Regions from separate parts of the Homo sapiens genome. Here all the other regions are linked to region 1. Evidence: fine-mapped expression QTL. A gene starts in region 1. Each other region holds a variant in brackets. All regions are shown on one strand. Distances are from middle to middle.

Evidence for each region. PIP is the estimated chance that this variant, and not a neighbour inherited with it, causes the effect. A credible set is the group of variants that fine-mapping cannot tell apart.
Region 2: its variant is the best candidate, but not a certain one, in a credible set for the expression of B3GAT2 in coronary artery (GTEx, PIP 0.68).
Region 3: its variant is the best candidate, but not a certain one, in a credible set for the expression of B3GAT2 in lung (GTEx, PIP 0.61).

What each region holds. Positions count from the first base shown.
Region 1 is chr6:70,953,629-70,960,149 of GRCh38, reverse strand. B3GAT2 (beta-1,3-glucuronyltransferase 2) reads left to right here and starts at 3,090. Exons shown (of 4, transcript NM_080742.3): 1 at 3,090-4,311. The coding sequence starts at 3,721. It overlaps LOC124901229, which reads right to left and starts at 3,722. Exons shown (of 2, transcript XM_047419611.1): 1 at 3,622-3,722; 2 at 1,233-3,518. The coding sequence starts at 3,722. The coding sequence ends at 2,792. RefSeq lists an enhancer at 3,315-3,830 and silencers at 3,759-3,888, 4,359-4,498.
Region 2 is chr6:70,698,607-70,705,127 of GRCh38, reverse strand. The region is part of intron 1 of SMAP1 (small ArfGAP 1); the gene reads right to left. Among named protein-coding and RNA genes, the nearest start is that of SMAP1, 34 kb to the right of the region's middle. The variant TC/C (reference allele first, on the strand shown) is at 2,734.
Region 3 is chr6:70,861,692-70,868,212 of GRCh38, reverse strand. B3GAT2 (beta-1,3-glucuronyltransferase 2) reads left to right here. Exons shown (of 4, transcript NM_080742.3): 3 at 6,235-6,383; 4 at 6,464-6,521. It overlaps SMAP1 (small ArfGAP 1), which reads right to left. Exons shown (of 11, transcript NM_001044305.3): 11 at 6,210-6,521. Among named protein-coding and RNA genes, the nearest start is that of B3GAT2, 92 kb to the left of the region's middle. The variant T/C (reference allele first, on the strand shown) is at 3,121.

The DNA of each region.
Region 1 (6,521 bases):
GCTCAGATTTGATCATAAGAGATTCGGGGCCACATATTGAGTGGCTTAATGTAAAACAATATGGCATATTCAGCCATCTGAAATAAATGTCACTTGGAATCATGTCATCCTTATTGCATGACAAGCTATACCTTGCATTTGGGGTAAATTTATTTCTTCTTTCTTCCACTCCCTAGACCAACTTGGGAAGACTCTAACATACACTCTAGGAATTATCTTCATTACAAGCAGAGGTACTATTTAGAAGCATTATCAGTCCTGTTTAGATTTCATTTTATATTCATTTGATAACGATGATCCATCAAGATCTCTTGTGTTAAGGTGTTCTTTTGAGGAAGGGTTATCTGTATTGAAATATCATTTATTGACTGCCTGTGTAATAATGGCTCTTCTTCAAACTACCCAACATACACCATTTAATCCTTGCAAGATTCCCATGGAGTATGTATTATTAACCCCATTTTCCAGATGAGGAAACAGGCCTTGGGAGGTTCACTGATTTTCTAAAGTTGCACAGTAGAAAGTATCCCAGAGGGGACTCAAACCCAGGTCTGCCTGACTCCAAGAACCATGAAGCTCCCCAACAGATGACTGAATGAAATAAACCTGGGTACAAATGCTAAGGGTAATAGAAAAAAATGAAGTGACAGTCTGTGATGTGCTAATTAAGTGTTGTGTTTTATGACACCCATGAATTCTGGGCATGAGCTAAAGTCTCAAACTGCAAATTCAATTGATTTTGAAAGTGCTTTGGGCTAGGCACAATGGCTTACATCTGTAATCCCAGCACTTTGGGAGGCCAAGGCATAAGGACTGCTTGAGCCCAGGAGTTCAAGACCATCTTGGGTAATAGGAGACCCCAGTCTACAAAAACTAAAATGAAAAAATTAGCAGGGTGTAGCAGCTTATATCTGTAGTTCCTGCTACTCAAAAAGCTGAGGCAGGAGGATTGCTTGAGCCCAGGACATCGAGACTGAAGTGAGCTGTGTTCAAGTCACTGCACCCCAGCCTTGGCATTGAAGAGAGACCCTGTCTGTCTGTCTTTCTCTCTCTCTCTCTCTCTCACACACACAGACACACACACACACACACACACACACACACACACACAGTGTTTCATCTCTGAATAGCCCTGGTTCCTGGAGAGGATGTAATAGCAAATAGGTTTTATGGCATAGTTGGACCAACCAAAAGTTCCCCACTAACAAAGGTTAGTGATGTTTTTAGTACAATTCAGTAACAACATGAATTTTATTCCAGCAAACACAAGGCATTTTAACCAAATTTAAAATTTCCAACAGGATGAACCAGACTTCAGTAACTTAGGGGAGAGGGGTGCACTGCTTCCTAAGAAAAACCTTTTCTTAAAGGGAGGCCTTGACTTCTTTCCTCTTCCCCATCCTGGCATGATGCTGGTGCAGAATACATTTCCAAGGTTGTGTTATATTCAGAGGCACATTAGGCTATTCGAGAGAATGGGAAGAGGTCTAATGGCTTCGTTGTTTTCTATGTTTAGGATGCACTAATCTGCAGAGTTTAATGTATGAGTTGTGGATGGCACAGGGAAGTTGGGACAGAAGGCTAGCTCTAGGGAGTTGTTGGGGTGGCTGGGTGTTAGTCTGAAATTTCACTCTCACGTTTCAGAATCTGAAGAGGAAGTTAGGGAAATTCACAGATGAGCCAATGCCTTTTAACAGGTGGGGGGTTCAGGGGTAGGACTGGGAGAAGAGGAGCTGTCAGAAAAGCTGGAGAGCCATTCGCCCCAGAGCTCTCAGTTGCACCAGAACGCACAGTCGGAGAGAGATTTATTTGTGAACAAGCCCGAGAAAGGCAGACAACCCAGACAAGATGGGCTCAGAAATTATTTATCATAGGCTAGGGCAGAACAGTCTGGAGCTTTCCTTCTGCTTTGCAAGCACTTCCCTGGGACCTGCCTGGGAAGCACAGCCCTTCTTCCTGGTAAGTTACAGAAGGTCAGGCACTCAGCTAGTAGGCCAGCTAGACAGCAAAAAGTGTCTAAACTAAGTGCCAACTGTTTACTTGGGGTCTTCCAGACCCTATCATGGTTCTATTCGTCATGGTACACTCTGTTTGATTTCAATCGCACCATCTTTATATGTAGGAAGGCCAAACCGGCCCGGCTGTGTTGGGTGGGATTTCTGCAGGCCATGCAGTGAGGACGCCACTAGCTATAGACACACGCAGGAGACCCACGTTCTATTTCCATATGCCACTTGCCACTGACCTCAGAGAAATCATTTTAAACCCTGAACCTCAGCTTCCTTATCCTGAAAATGAAGGCCATTCTACTTCTTAGGCCTTCTTGACAGGAGCCTTGGGAGAGCCAAACGGAGTAATTCCGGTGACAGCGAAGAACTGGGAGGGACCGTGACTCCAAATTACTGAAGAAAAATAAGTTAAACATGCTCGGCTGGAGTTTTAGGAATTCCACCCGCCCCCACCCGCCATGATCAAACTGCAGTCAGGCAGCAGCCCTCCGAATTGATTCTTTCTTATGGACTGTCTCACATGCCAAACACCTATGTGCAGCACCCCTCCATCTCCGTGGGCTCCTATTGATGTCTGCCTTGCAGTGAAAGCGCTTTTTGTTGCCGCTGTTCGATACACCCCAGCACATCAACGCAGCAGCTGGGAGCAGGAGGAGGAATCCCTTCGCTTTCTCCCCTCCTTTCACTCCGAACCCTAGGCATCAGCAGCAACGCGCGTAGCCCGGCAAATTTCCGCACGTGAATGGATTTTCCTGGCTCATCTCCAAAGACCTTGCGGTATTTCACAAAGCTGAAGAGAGGTGAACGAGCATCACCCCCTCCAGGAGGTCGTGCAGCCCCGCGGGGACGCTCCTCCCGCTCCTCCACCCGCGGTGCAGCGGCCGCCTCCCGAGCTTGCTCGCGGGGCCGTTAGCGCCAGACCCGGCGGAGAGCCAAGGGGTCCCTCCGCGCCTCCCTCTCGCAGCCCCTCTCCACCAGTAGCAGCGCTGCTGTCTTCCCACAGGAGGACTTGGGAGGACGCTGGATTCTGCAGCGCCCCCGCCCCCTCGCTTTTTCTTTCTTTCCTTGCTTTGGGATCTTGCTGCTGGATCCGGAGAGGTTCTGAGAAGACAAGAGCAAGGGACTGAGAGCAGGCTTCCGCTGCGGCGCGCGAACACAGCCGGGACACAACCCCCAGCGTCTCCACCCGCTCCTCGCCACCCCGGCGGGAATGTGAGGAAGGAAAGCCCCCAGCGCCGCCGCCCGCCCTCGAAGGCGTCCCAGAGAGCGTCCTGGGGGCCCGCGGCTGGAGCCCTTGTGCCCGCAGCACCGCCGGACTGGAGCGGCGAGGCGCACCGGGTGCCGCTTCTCGGCTTCCACTCTTCAGAAAGAGCGCGGTGGGGATCAGCGCCTTTCCCGCACTCGGCACAACTCCGGGACCGGCGGCGCGCGGCTGGACCGAGTCCCGCTTCCCGCCAGCTCACCTGGAGTCGGGGGCAGCCCCTGCCCGCCCGCCTGCACCCCTTGTCGCTCTAGCTTGCGCGAACCTGCCGCTCCTCCACGCCCAGGTAGTGAGCCCCGCGGCTCCAGGTCTCTGCAGCGCCCTCGGCCCCATGGACAGCGCACCCATCACCACTCCCTAAGTGCTGGCGCCGCCGCTGTCCAAGCTGCGCACTGGGGTCCCTCGGCTCGCCCCTCTCTGGGGTGTCCGAGAGGCCAGGGAGCGTGCACCATGAAGTCCGCGCTTTTCACCCGCTTCTTTATCCTCCTGCCCTGGATCCTAATTGTCATCATCATGCTCGACGTGGACACGCGCAGGCCAGTGCCCCCGCTCACCCCGCGCCCCTACTTCTCTCCCTACGCGGTGGGCCGCGGGGGCGCCCGACTCCCGCTCCGCAGGGGCGGCCCGGCTCACGGGACCCAAAAGCGCAACCAGTCTCGGCCGCAGCCACAGCCGGAGCCGCAGCTGCCCACCATCTATGCCATCACGCCCACCTACAGCCGCCCGGTGCAGAAAGCGGAGCTGACCCGCCTGGCCAACACGTTCCGCCAGGTGGCGCAGCTGCACTGGATCCTGGTGGAGGACGCGGCGGCGCGCAGCGAGCTGGTGAGCCGCTTCCTGGCGCGGGCCGGGCTGCCCAGCACTCACCTGCACGTGCCCACGCCGCGGCGCTACAAGCGGCCCGGGCTGCCGCGCGCCACTGAGCAGCGCAACGCGGGCCTCGCCTGGCTGCGCCAGAGGCACCAGCACCAGCGCGCGCAGCCCGGCGTGCTCTTCTTCGCTGACGACGACAACACCTATAGTCTGGAGCTCTTCCAGGAGGTAAAGGCCAGCCTGCCCCGCTGGGTGGGCGAGGGCGGGAGTGGGCCTCCGGGCCGGCCGGGCTGCAGTCACACGCCCCTTGCACTCCGGGTGCACTTTTGAGTTCTCAGTTCTCCGTGCGCGCATTCGGGGCACCGAGTGGAGCCGCTCCTTGCTGGCACTCCGCAGCCTCCGCTGGCCGTGGGGGTGGAGGGGCTGTGTGTGAGAGGATCACTGTGGCTTAAGGGGCGGGAGTCTGCCCTGGGGCTTTTCTGTGTGGAGATTGTGTCAAGAGAATAGCACAGGTGTGAGGCGCGGGAATGATTTCCAGGGGCCAGGCTCCTGACGACCTGAGGATGGAGCTTAGACCTGCAGGCGCTGGCTGCGATAGGAGATCAGGGAGGGACCTGCACCGTAGCGGGTGGCGGTGGAGGGGTGGGGGTGGTGGGGACGGGTAGGCTAGGTGTTACTCGAGGCTTTTCAGTGCCTACAGGTGTGATTCTCAGTCTAGGACCATATAGGGAGAAAGGTGGAGATAGCCTAGAGAGAAATTTGACTATTGCGGCCCACTGGCACGGAAATGGTTGTTAGAAGAAACACTGACTTCTATGGAGGTCCTTCCTCTCTTTCCCACACCTCACAAAAGTCTTTTCTGACCCTCAAGATTACTTTTTTTTTTTTTTTGCAAGAAAACCCTTTCTGGAAAATAAACTGTTCTGCCCTGTGGTTACGTCTTTTTTGCAGCCCAAGGTAAACATCTGGGCTGCCTGATCCCTTTTCACAACCTTTCTCTAAGGCCTCTTTTTGGCGAGTTAGCCAGGACACATTTGGCGGGGCCTTTTGCGTCTTTCTGGTGCAGCCAGGTCCTGAGTGCATCCGGGCTCCCTGCTGTTGAGATGGCCCATGAGTTCCCTGGGATGGCCACGCGCGCACCGCCCCCCCCCGCCGCCCCCGGCAGGCACAGGGTTAGAACAGGTGTTCTTCCTTGAGGCTGGTATCTTGCGGTGTGTGTGTGTGTAGCCTGCAAATGAGACTGAGTGGCATGGGTTTTCTCAGTTTTCTTCTGTCTACGCAATTACAGCCAAAGAAAATCTTCTTGATTGATTTGACGCCCTGTGAGACTGTTGCCTTCCTCCACCTGAAATTTCTTGACGTCCTGCTTCAGAGACTCCCCCTCAATTCCCCTTCTCCCAAGTAAACTGGACATTGGGAAAATACTATGTGTGAGTTGGACACTGAACTGCTAAAATAATCTGTGTGTCTGGTCATCAGATACCCTAACTGCTTCCCACACTTTCATCCTCATCTCTGGGTTGCTTTCTTAACCCCAGGGCAGAGCTATTCTGTACTCTTCCAGTTTAATTTTTCTGTGTGGCTTTAAAAAAATTTTCTTAAAGGTAATTGCCGCCTTCATTTCTATTCATCCTCTCTTTCATGAATAAAAGGCACAGTAATTGTCCTTCATCTTTTCTTTTCCATCCTTTCACTGTAGAGGGCTTTCTTTCCACGTTTCTCCAAATGAATAAATAAGCTTGGCATTGTATAGTATGGTCCTTACTCAACCCAAGATTAGAGATACCATCTGACGTTTTTAACTGGGCTTTTAATCCTGCATCAGTGCTCCCCCCTCCAAAAGAAAAAAGTGGCTTGCATCTGAAGCAAAGACTGTACATTTCAATGCACCACAATTTTTAAACCGCAAGGTCTTTTTATTTTCTTCTACAACTTCGAAGTTGCCTCGTCTGTGACAATATGTGGTCTTGTTGAAGTAAAATAGTGCACATTACTGTTAATGAACACTGTAGGAGGCTAGATTGTGAAGGAGGAATGATTTAGTTTATTCCGAGCTTCTAGCCTCTTGGTGTGAGGTGTTAGAAGAATTGGCACACGCAGGCAGTGAAATGATTCAGGACACAGCCTTCCTTTGATGCTTCCCAAACTGAAAGGAGGGTTTGTTGGTGGGGGATATTAAGCATCAGGAGAAAATTCCAGTAGGTTTTTCATTAGTCCATATGGGGGAAAATATAAAATGAGGAGAGGGTAAGGAGAAAAAAATAGTGTTGTCAGAGAGGACATTATAAAGGAAAAACGCAAAACTTTCAAGACACTAAACTTTTGTACAATTGGAAGTAATGCAATAAAATAAAATAAGAGCATATGCAACATTTTTTAATGGTGAGGTGCCACATATACAAAAAATACAACAGGTTTATTGTTTCTGTTGTCATTTT
Region 2 (6,521 bases), 260 kb after region 1:
AATTGTTCATTCACTCATTCATTGACTCACTGTCATCAAAAATGTGGTTAATGCTTACTATATGCCAAGAACTTTCTAGTTACTGGGTATCCTCAGGGAAATAAAACAGATGAGAGTCTGCCATCATGAACTACAAATCCCAAGAAAGCAAGACAGAGAAAAACAAGTTAGATATTTGTCTTTGGATGCCTGCCTGTTCAATTAATAGCCCCTTTCAGCTTGAAGTGGAAAAATTAACTAAAATAATAAATGTCTCCATATATTAGAACTTTTGCTTTTTAAAAGTCTTGATATAAGGAGAAGCAGAAACTGATGGCTAAAATGACACTCTGAATTAGATGCAGAGTCCAACTACTTTCTTGTCTTTCAAGCTCACAAATAATGGATACGGTTGACTAATCCCACTTAATGTCTTTGATATCAGTAACAATGAAAATTGCTATATAAAGATTTTTAACAAATACAACTGTGGAATATATTAGCCTTGTTTGCATTTTAGCAGGAAGAATAAACTCAAAGACTAAGGCAAATTCTGTACCAGTTTGACAACAGCAAACTATAATTACATAAACAGATGTTTTCACCATTCTATGAAATGGAAGGAGACGTTATTTGAAACATGAACAATTTAAATAACTTGCTGCAGAATATAACCATTTTAATTTGACTTGAAAAAAAAATCTGTAATATTAGCAGTCAGCAAAATACAATCAAATTTATATATGAAGAGCACAGCACATCACAGGAGATTTCCTCTATAAGTTGATTCAGACTTCAAAGAATCAGGAGGAGTAATGGATTAACTTGTTTTGTATCATTCACTTAGCAGTATCAAGCTTTCATTGGAACAGAAGAGTACTAGTAACATCAATAGTTTTCATTTTCTCCTGTAATTTGTTAATAGCTCTAAAAATTACATGAGGACAGATGTTATAAATAAACTTAAATGTAACTGTTCTCTTCAATGAGCCTAGGAAAAATATAAGTTTCAATAAAAAGAAACAAGGGGTTTAAAAGTAATTTTCTTTTCATGGCTTTTTCTACTAAAATACCATATTGAGTTGTTTTCTAACCAAAATATGAAGGAACAGACGCTGAAATTTGCCCAATCGACTAAAGCAACTTTAAATCCAAACAAAATATATAACACATTGCTGAAGAAACTGGAAATCAAGAGATGGAAAACAAACTAGGTGAGAGCCTTACAATGAACTCAGCTTACTGTCCAGGGAAAGTGTCTAGGCCATGGCAAAGGGAAGATAAATCCAGGGGCAGCCCAGTGGCCTCCCTAACTCCAGGAAATGGATCTAGGAGTTCACAGAGACTAAGGTGGCTGAATTTCATAAGGCAGCATACAAGAGGAGAGAGATGCACAGAGAGAAAACTCCTTAAACATGCAAAAAGTCATCACTGAATATTTAATTGAGTACTGATTGGTGCACGTGTGTGAGGAAACTACAGAAGGTAGGGAAAACCCCACCCAAAACAATTAGAGGAAACTAACTTGAAAACTTTATTATTAATGGATCATCAGATATGGTATTCGAAGAATTTTTGCCTCACTAATGGAAAAATTAATTCTATAAAGTCCTGTAGTCTCACCTAGTAAAGCTTAAAAGCAAGATCTGAAAAAGTCAGGCTATTTCCAAGTAACTTAACTGCATCCAAGAAAAAAGGTCAAAAATATTTATAAAAATACAAAAATATCAGGAACCGATACAATTCCCATATCTAGCATTCAATTGAAAAATGCTGGCTGAGCGTGGTGGCTCACACCTGTAATCCCACCACTTTGGGAGGCCGAGGTGGGCGGATCACTTGAGATCAGTTCAAGACCAACCTGGCCAACATGGTGAAACCCTGTCTCTACTAAAAATACAAAAATTAGTTGAGCATGGTGGCAGGCATCTGTAATCCCAACTACTTGGGAGGCTGAAGCAGGAGAATCGCTTGAGCCCAGAAGGCAGAGGTTGCAGTCAGCCATATCGTGTCACTGAACTCCAGCCTGGGTGACAGAGCGAGACTCTGTCTCAAAAAAAAAAGTCGTGAAAAAAGGAAAACATAATCTATAAAAAGGAGGAAAGTCAATCAATCGAAACAAACCCTCAAATTACACTTGAATTAGCACGCAAGGCACAAAATCCATTATCATTGACTTCTATATGTTCAAGAAGCTATAAGAAAGACTGAACATGGGGACAGGCACAGTGGCTCATGCCTGTAATCCCAGCACTTTGGAAGGCCAAAGCAGGTGAACTGCTTGCACTCAGGATTTCGAGACCAGCCTGGGCAACAGGGCCAAGACCCTGTCTCTATAACAAACACAAAAATTAACCAGGTGTGGTGGTGCGCACCTGTAGTCCCAGCTACTCAGGAGGCTGAGGTGGGACAATGGCTTGAGCCTGGGAGGTTGCAGTGAGCTGAGATCACACCACTCAACTCCAGCCTGGGTAAAAGAGCTAGACTCTGCCTCAAAAAAAAAAAAAGAAGAAGAAGAAGAAGAAGAAAGAAAGGCTGAACATGTGAAGAAGAGGCATGAGGCATGGAGTGCATGTGTGTGTGGACACAAAAGATCCAAATCAAACTTCTATAAGATGCAAACTATAATGACTGGGATAAGAACTACACTGGATAGAATTAAGAGATGAGACAATCAAGAAGAAAAAACTGCTAAAAGAATGTGAAGACAAAGCAATAGCAACTATCTAAAATGAAACAAATAAACAGACCCCC[TC/C]CCCAAAAAAAAAGCATGTAACTGAGCTCTGCAGCAGTTTCAGCAACCTAATTAACTTTTAATTGGAATTCCCAAATTAAGAGGTGGAGTGACAGAAAAAGTAAAATAATTGCAGAATTTTTTCCAAATGCATTGAAAACTATAAACCCATAGAACCAAGAACCTCAAAGGAACCCCCCCCAAAAAAGAAACATGAAGAAAGCTACCAAAAGACAATTCATAATCAAACTGATTAAAACTAAGGATAAACAGAAAAAAATCTTAAAAGAAGCTGGGGGAAAAGGCATTACGGACAAAGGAACATACAATGATGACAGATTTCTCACAAAATCAACGGAAACTCACAAACAGCAAAATATCTTAAAAGTACTGAAAGTAAAATACTGTCAACGTAGAACTTTTTGCCATACTAAAACATCTTTTGAAAACAAAGGTGAAATAAAGGTCAGGAAAGTAATCAATGAAGTAGGAGGCAGAGCAAGATGAACAAACAGAACCAATAATCATCTCCCCTGCAGGAACACCAAATTGAACAATTATCCACACAAGAAATCACCTTCATAAGAACCAAAGTATCTGGTTTTAATATCATATTGAGAAAAGGGGCACTGAAGAGGTTAGGGAAGACAATTTTGAATTGCCTACACTACCCTCCTCAACCCCCTGGACAGCAGCTGTATGACAGAGAGAGAATGTGTGCTTGGGGAAGGGAGAACGCAGTGATTGTGGGACTTGGCATTGAAACTCTGTCCTGCCAATCATGGTGGGAAGCGACACAGGGCAGAAATCAGCTGGGGCCCAAGGAAGGAACTTTTATACCAGCCTTAACCAGAGGAAAATCATCCATCCCAGCAGCGAGAACCTGAGTTCTGGCTAGTCCCACCAGTGCATGCTAAAGCACTCTAGGGTCCTAAATAAACTTGAAAGGCAGTCTTGGCCACAAGGACTGCAATCCCTAGGCAAGTCCCGGTGCTGTGCTGGGCTTGCAGCCAGTGGACTTTGGGTGCACGTGACCTAGTAAGACACCAGGCCAGGCATGGTGGCTCATGCCTGTGATCCAGAGCCGGGTGGATCACTTGAGCTCAGGAGTTCGAGACAAGCTTGGGAAACATGGCAAAACCCATCTCTACCAAAAATACAAAAAAATTAGCCAGGCATGGTGGTGTGTGCCTATAGTCCCAGCTACTAGGAAGGCTGAGGTAGAAGGATTGCTTGAGCCTAGGAGGTGGAGGTAGCAGTGAGCTGAGATACCAGCTGGGGCAGCCAAGGGAGTGCTTGCATCACCACTCCCCCAATCCCAGGTGGCACAGCTCACAGCTCTAGGAGAGACTCCTTCCTTCCGTGTGAGGAGAGAAGAGGGGAGGGTAAAGACGACTTTGCCTTGCAACTTGGATATCAGTTCATCCACAAGAGAATGGAGCACCAGGCAGAGTCCTGAGGCCCCCATTCCAGGACCTAGCTCCCCGATGACAATTCTAGACACACCCTGGGCCAGAAGGGAACCCACTGCCTTGAAGGGAAGGACACAGTTCTGGCAGGATCCATTACCTGCTGACTAAAGAGCCCTTGGGTCTTGAACAAACACCAGCAGGTAATACTTGCCGGTACTTGCTAGTAGCCAAGTAGAACTTGCTGCAGGCCTTGGGTAAGACCCAGTGCCATGCAGGCTTCAAGCATGACCCACCATGTTCACAGCTGTGGTGGCTATGGGGAGAGACTCCTTCTGTATTAGGTCGTTCTTCTGTTACTATACATAAATATCTGAGGCTGGGTAATTTACAAAGAAAAGAAGTTTAGGCTGGGTGCCATGGCTCACACCTGTAATCCCAGCAATTTGGGAGGCCAAGGCAGGTGGATCACTTGAGGCCAGGAGTTTGAGACCTGTCTGGCCAACATGGTGAAACTCCATCTCTACTAAAAACACAAAAATTAGCCAGGCATGGTGGTACATCCTGTAATCGCAGCTACTCTGGAGGCTGAGGCACAAGAATCGCTTGAACCTGGGAAATGGAGGTTGCAGTGAACCGAGATCATGCCACTGCACTTCAGCCTGGGTGACAGTGAGACTGTCTGAAAAGAGAAAAGAGGTTTAATTGGTTCACTGTTCTGCTGGCTGTACAATTATGGCACCAGCATGTGCTTGGCTTCTGCGGAAGCCTCAGGGAGCTTTTACTCACGACAGAAGGTGAAGCAGGTGCTTGCAGGCCATATGGCGAGAGAAGGAGCAAGGGGCAGAGGGAGGTGCCACACACTTTTAAATAATCATATCTCATGAGAACTCACTCACTATCTCAAGAACAGCACGAAGGTACGAGGAATCCATTCCTGTGACCCACAAACCTCCCACCAGGCCCCACCTCCAACACTGGGGAATACAACATCTCAACATGAGATTTGGGTGTGACAAATACCCAAACCATATCACCTTCTGCTTGAGGAAAGGAAAGGGAAGAATAACGGGGACTTTGTCTTACAGTTTGGTTGCCAGCTAAGTCACAGTGGTGTGGAGCACCAAGCAGGCTCCTAGGATCCCAGATTCCAGGCCTTGGCTCCTGGATGGCATTTCTGGACCCACCCTGGGCCAAAGAGGAGCCCACTGCCTTGAAGGGAGAGACCCAGGCCTGGCAACATTTACTACAAACTCACTGAAGAGCCCTCGGACCTTACGTTAACATCAGCAGTGGCGAGGCAGTACTCACCACAGGCCTTGGGCAGTGGTGGTCATGAGGAAAGACTACCACTTGAAGAAAGGAGAGGGAAGAATGTTAAGAACTTTGTCTTGCAGCTTGGATGCCAACTCAGCCACAGCAGAACAGTGCATTAAGTGGAATCCTAAGCTTCCTGACTCCAAGCCCTGGTTCTCAGGCATTTCTGGACCCACCTTGGGCCAGTGGAGAGCTCGCTGTCCTGAAGGGAGGATACAAGCCAGGCCGGATTCACTACCTGCTGACTGAAGAGCTCTTGGGCCTTGAGAGAACATCAGTGGTAGCCAGGCAGTGGTCGCCACAGGTCCCGGGTAAGACTCAGTGCTATGCTGGTTTCAGGTCTAATCCAGCGCAGTCCCAGTGGTGGTGGTCACATGGGTACTTGTTTCATCCCTCCCTCAGCCGCAGGAAGCTCTGCACAGAGAGAGAGACTCCATTTGTTTGCAGGAAAGTAAGGGAAGAAAACAAGAGTCTCTGCCTGGTAATCCAGGGAATTCTCTCAGATCTCACCTAAGACCACCAAAGCAGTACCTCTACCGGTCTGCAAGAGTCAGTGTTACTGGGTCTGGGTCCCCACTAATGCAGATGCAGCTGCAATAAGCAAAGACTTAGATCAGGACACTCAATTCCTTTGCATACTTGGACAGCCTTCCCAAGAAGGATGAGGACAAACAAGCCTAGACAGAAAAGACCACAATAAATACCTAACTCTTCAATGCCCAGACATCAACAAACATCCACAAGCATCAAGACCATCCAAGAAAACATGACCTCCCCAAATGAACTAAATAAGGCACAAATGATCAATCCCAGAGTGACAGAGATATGTGACCTTTCAGGCAGAGAATTCTAAACAGCTGTTTTGACGAAGCTCAACAAAATTCAAGATAACACTGAAAAGGAATTCAGAATTCTATCGGATAAATTTAACAAGAGATTGAAATAACTAAAAATCAAGCAGAAATTCTGAACCTGAAAAATTCAACTGACATACTGAAGAATGCGTCAGAGTCTCTCAACAGCAGAATTGATCAAGCAGAAGAAATAATTCGTAAGCTTGAAGCAGGCTATTTCAAAATACA
Region 3 (6,521 bases), 92 kb after region 1:
CAATTAAGTATAATGTTGGCATTAGGTATTTTTGTAGATGTCCTTATTAAGTTGAGAAAGTTCACTTCTAGTCTTAGTTTGCTGAGAGGCTTTTATTTCTTCTTTTCATTATGACTAGATGTTAGATTTTGTCAAAGCATTTTCTCCAGCTATTGTGATAGTCAGATTTTTTTTTTTAGTCTGCTAATATGGTGAATTACATTGATTGATTTTGAAATTTTAAACCAACATTGCAATCTGGAGATAATCCTCAAGTGGTCATGATTTATTGTCTTTTTATTGTTGAATTTGATTTGCTAAAATTTTGAGAATTTTTCTGTGATCATGAGGATTATTAGTCTGTAGTTTTCTTGTAATGTTTTTGTCTGGTTTTGGTATCAGGGCAATGCTGGTCTTACAGGATAACTTGAGAAAGATTTCCTCCTTTTCTATTTTCTAGAAAAATTCATGTAGAATTGCTGTCATTTCTTCCTTAAATGCTTGGTAGAATTTACCAGTGAAGCTCTCTGGTCCTGGAGGGTTGTGTGTATGTGTGTGGAAGATTTTAATTATAAACTTAATTTATTTGATACAGGGCTATTTCACATTATCTATTTCTTCATGAGTGAGCCTTGTAGCTTGTCTTTCAAGGACTTTTTCTATTTTGATCTAAGTTGTCAAATTTACTATCATAAAAAGTTGCTTATAATAGCCCCATATTATCATTTTAAGGTTTGTAGAACCTATCTCTTTCATTTCTGAGGCTGGTAATTTATATCTTCTCTTTTTCCTGATAAGCATGGGTAGAGTTTATCAATTTTATTAACTTTTTTTTCCTAAATGACTAGGTTTTTATTTCACTTATCTTCTCAATTGTTTTCTATTTCTACTTTAGTCGTTTCTGCTCTCATATCTATTAGTATAGTCGTTTTCTCCATTTACTTTGGGCTTCATTTGCTTTCTTTTTCTAATTTATAAAGGTAGGAGCTTAGGTTATTGAATTCAGACCTTTCTTATCCAGTAAGTGCTTAATGTTTTCTAAAAACTAGTTTCCCATCTAAACACTCCTTTAGATGTATCCTACACATTTTGATATGTCTTGTTTTCATTTTCATTCAGTTAACCACTTTATCATTTCCCTTTTGATTTCTTCTTTGGTTTGTATTTTGCTTAGAATTATATTGTTTAGTTTCCAAATATTTGGGATATTTTCCAGGTATCTTTGTATTTACTGATATCTATTTTAATTCCACTGTAGTCAGAAAACATATTTTGTACAATTTAAATTATTTTAAATGTATTGAGACAGATTTATGGCCCAGACTATGGTCTAACTATCGTGATAATGTTCCATGTGTACTTTAAAAGATTGTATTCTGCTGTTGTTGGGTGGAGTGTTCTATAAATGTCATTTAGGTGTAGTTGAAAATGTTATTTAAGTCTTACATATCTTTCCTGAGTTTTCAAGTTTGTAAATTTTTCAGTCGTCATTTCTTCAAATTTTTTTCCCTGTCTCCCTCATTCATTCACCTTTGACTCTGTTCCTGTGACTCTGTACGGTGTGTGTGTGTTGGTCTTGCCTTTTCTGTTTCATTTTGGTAGTTTCTATCATTATGTGTTCGAGTTTACTCAACTTTTATTCTGCAGTGTCTCCTCTGCTGCTAATCCCATCCAATGTATTTTTCATCTCAGACATTGTATTTTTCATCACTGAGGTGTCTTGGGCATCAGGCATTTTGAATTTTATGTTGCTAGATACTGGATGAGAGAGACATATATGTATACACACAACCATACATAAAAACACATATATATGTAATGTTATACTATATTATAAATACATATGTATTCTTGAGCTTTGTACTGGGACACAACTGAGTTAACTTGGAAACATTTTGATCCTTTCCAGGCTTGCTTTTGAAGTTTGTTAGGCAAAACCATCTCAGCCTCTAGTTTAGGGCTAATCAATTTGACCTTACAACAGGCACGATAACCTTCCAAGTTCTCCTCCAGGTGCTCCAGCTGTTACTAGGTAGCTCCACTCTGGCTACTGAGAATGGGAACTAGTCCCCTCCAGTAATTGATTCACCTGCTCCTTGCCAGTGGTTCTGTACCTGGCCTGAGGTAGTTGTGTGAGCATTTGCTCTTCATACTCAGTTGAAGAGTTGAGGAGAGCTGTCTACAGATCAGCAGAGTTCTTCCTTCTCTAGTACTCCACCCTGCATATCCTAGTTGTCTTGGCCTCCTCAAATTCTCAGTTGTTTCCTCAATTCAAGGGGACTGCAGAGCTTTCCGGGTTCCCCTCCCTGTGGTGTAGCCTGAAAACATACTTCAGGCAGGAAGCTGGGGCAGTTGTAGGGGTCACATTTCTCTTTTCTCAGAGATCTCTGTCTCATGTGCCTCTTTTCCAATGTCTGGAAACTTTTTTCAATCATTTTGTCTGCCTTTTTGTTATTTAAAACAAGTGAGGAAAAACCAGTCCCTATTGCAATTTTGTCCAGAAATGTAAATAGCTTGTTGGACTTTTAAAGTCTTACAAATTTTCTACTCAGTAATCAGTAATCATATATGGAGGTAGGCCCTATCCCTCTGCCTGAGAGGGAATAGTTATTCCTGAGTATCCATAGGGAATTGGTTTCAGGACTGCTACTCATACCAAAATCCATGGACGCTCAAGTCCCTGATATAGTGTTTACATATAACCTAGGCAGATCCTCCTGTATACTTTAAATCATCTCTAGATTACTTACCTAATACAATGCAAATGCCATGCAAATTGTTGTTATACTATATAGCTTTAAAACTTGTATTATTTTGACTGGCTGCTGTAGCTCACGCCTGTAATCCCAGCACTTTAGGAGGCCGAGGGGGGCAGATAACTTGAAGTCAGGAGTTCAAGACCAGCCTGGCCGACATAGTGAAACCCCGTCTCTGCTAAAAATACAAAATTAGCCAGGCCCACGTCTGTAGTCCCAGCTACTCGGGAGGCTGAGGCAGGAGAATCACTTGAACCCAGGAGGCAGAGGTTGCAGTGAGCCGAGATTGTGCCACTGCACTCCAGCCTGGGCAACAAGAGTGAAACTCTGTCCAAAAACAAAAAAGCCCTATTATTTCTTGTTGTATTGTCATTTTTTTGTTTTA[T/C]TTTCAGATATTTTTAATCTGAGGTTAGTTGGATCTGCAGATGCATCTGCAGATACAGAGGGTGACTGTGTATCCTCCCCACCTAGCTCTGCTGAAGAAGTCAGGAAATCCTGCCTTCTCAGTGAACAATCATTTTTATTTGCATTTTTTTTTTTACTCAGCTGACCAGGGCAGAAAATCCTACTCCCATGACTTTCGTAAGCATCTCCAAAGTAACCAACATCTTTAAAGATAACGAATCTCACTAAAAAAGGAAAGATATAATACTTGAAGTATAAATACTTGGAATTACCCAAGAAAACATCTTAGGTTGGAAATCAATGGTTTAGGATTCCCTTTACTGTGATTTCAGAGGGGAGAACTCTTTAACTCTGCCCCCAGCTTCACAGCGGGTCAGATTCCCCAAAAGTAACCCAGGGGTTGACCTAGTTAACATGCAGTCTCTCCTGCCAGCTGTGACCTGCTTCCTTTCAAGAGATCACTGAGCAAAGGAAATTGCGTTAGCTGATTGTGGGGCATCTGAATTGTGCTCCTCCACCCCTTTGTATTAGAGAATAGAAAAACACTTGGGTACTGTGGAGAGCCACAGGCTAACATGTCTCCAGGGTGCTGGCCTTTCAGGTGCGCACCATTCTCTAGTGACACCAGGAAAGGAGACCTTGCTGCAAAATGATGTATAGCTTCACAACTGGCTGTTAACTTTACATAAATTGTAGATTTTGCCATGTCATTCTGTGTGAAGCGCTGGAAGGATATTCCTGTGCTAAGGAAAGCAACAAAAGAATCTGAATCCTTCAGTGGTCGTGATGGTTAATGTGTTAAAGTCTTAGGGGAAAATGAAGGAAATCAGATCCAGGTGGCTCCATATCATTTCCAGAAATCACCTCTGCACAATTTGGATCCCATGTTTTTGAGAGAATGGGGAAATACAACCAGTATCCTGAAGCCATGTGAAGAATGTATCAGGAGTTTCAGTATGACTGAGAAGGGTAGGCTCTCATCTGAATTTAAAAAAAAAAAAAAAAAAAAAAGGATAAAGCTTATTTATAAGCATGTGGGAAAAAGCAAGAAATCTTTTAACACTAAAATCTGATCTGACCTGTTGGAAAGGACACTACGTTATCAATTTGAACCTCTGGCTTTTGTTGAGGTGTCTGGTGGTTGTCCTAGTTGTGTCTAAGGAAGGCTGTGGACTTGTTACCAGAGTTGCTATCACATGTAGGTGTCCTGGCTTTGCTACCTGGAACTTTCCCAAACCTTTTACATCTGTCAACCAGTATTCTTTCAGCCATAAATGGTGGCTGGCATCACCTGCCCCTCATGATCACACTGACAATAGTATTTTTATTTATATATTGTAGTATCTTTTGAACAGTGCTTTGCAGTCAGTGGAGTCTTTCCATACCTCAATTTTTCATCAAACATTGAGTTGAAGTGTTACACTTCTCTCGCAAATAAAGAAATGGGGAAGTTAGAAAATCAAGAAAGGTTAAATGAGTTGGCCAGTGTCCCAGGGGCAGGGACCTAGGCAAAAACAAAAGGCTTCTAATTCCAAATCCAGTATTCTCTGCTAAAATGTGCCACCTCCCTCCCTTTAGGGTTGGTGGAGGTATCGATACTGGGGCTAGTCCTACAGCTAATGCTTTATGATTCTTTGTTCTGCTTCACTCAGCACCTGCTGTACCACGTTATGTTTGTAAGTGGCTTAGTGTTAACTTTTCTCCAAAAGGCAGCAGGGTCTGGAACAGGAGACTGGCCCAGTCTGGCATCTGGAGAGGATGGTGGTTGTGGTGTTTTCACAGCTCCTCCATTACCACCTGGTATCATTTAGTATTACTTTGCAAACTGAATCATAAATCAACTCATTTAATGTAGAGAAGGGCAAAAGTTGCTGAGAAATGTTTTGTGGGTTGGTGCCCGGAGCTTCAACTCTGGGAGGGTGCCTGACTTGACAGTATCACCTTAGTCACTAAGGAAAAAGAGATCCAGGGCTTCAGACCTTCAAAACAATTATTACTTGCTGAGATGGCAAAAACAATTGTAGAGTGCTTCAATGGCTGAGCTTTAAACAGTTTGTTAAACTACAGATTAAATACGAATGATTCTTTTTTCTTTGAGACAGGGCCTCATTCTGTTGCCCAGGCTGGAGTTGCAGTGGCACAGTCATAGCTCACAGCAGCCACAACCTCATAGGCTCAGGCAATCCTCCCACCTCAGCCTCCTAAGTAGCTGGGACTACAGGCACGCACCACGTGCCACAACACCCAGCTAATTTTTGTATTTTTTGTAGAGACAGGGTCTCATTATGCTGCCCAGGCTGGTCTTGAACTCCTGGGCTCAAGAGATCCTTCTGCCTTGGCCTCCCAAAGTGCTGAGATTACAGATGTGAGACACTGTGCCCAGCCAGTAATGATTTTTCGTATGACCAAACCATTGAAGAAAATTTACACTTATTTTTGGTAAATGAAATACCAAAAAAAAACTTTATCAGATGATGGCCTGATATCTCCTGCACTGATTTCTGCCCCACATACCCTTTTTAGATTGAACCAAATTAGAAATATAAACCAGATGATTAAAAATTAGGTATGATTCATTTTCCAGCTAATCGGCTTTACTTCTGTTGCTCCCTCTTCTAAATGCAAAATGAATCCAAGCAGTGCTGGATTTAAGGAAGCATACATAATTAATATTACAGGGCAGGCAGGAGAGCTGGGCATGTGGTCTCATACCCCACATGTAGTTAGGTAAGCATGTATGTTTTTCAGCTGCATTTATTTCTTAGTTATTCCTAGTGGCAAATGTGGGGGGTTGATGATCACTGTGAAACAGCAGCTTATAAAATTCACCCTTTATTATCAACAGACTAAACTTCCTATTTTGCGTAGATGCTCCTGTGCACGCCTTTATTTTACACGGAATGTAAAATATTGTAATGACTGATTTTCCTTTGAGACTGTAATACAGGTAATGTTCCTATTCAACTTTGTAAACCAAGACCTGACACACAGTAGGTATTTTAAAAACTGTTTTGATGTGACCAAAATTATACAGAAAAAAAGAGAAGTACACCAGGATTTTAAAGTCTCTTTTTTTTTTTTATTTTTCACAAAGGATTTGCTGTAAGTCTTCAAGTCATTTTGTCCAATCCAAAAGCTGTATTTAAGCGTCGTGGATCCCAGCCAGGGATGCAAGAATCTGACTTTCTCAAACAGATAACAACAGTCGAAGAACTGGAACCGAAAGCAAATAACTGCACTAAGGTATTCATTACACTTGTGCTGCCCGACCTCGAGTGTCACCATGAAGAGTGCGCTACCCAAGCTATTTCCTTCCCCTTCAGGTTCTCGTGTGGCACACTCGGACAGAGAAGGTTAATCTAGCCAACGAGCCAAAGTACC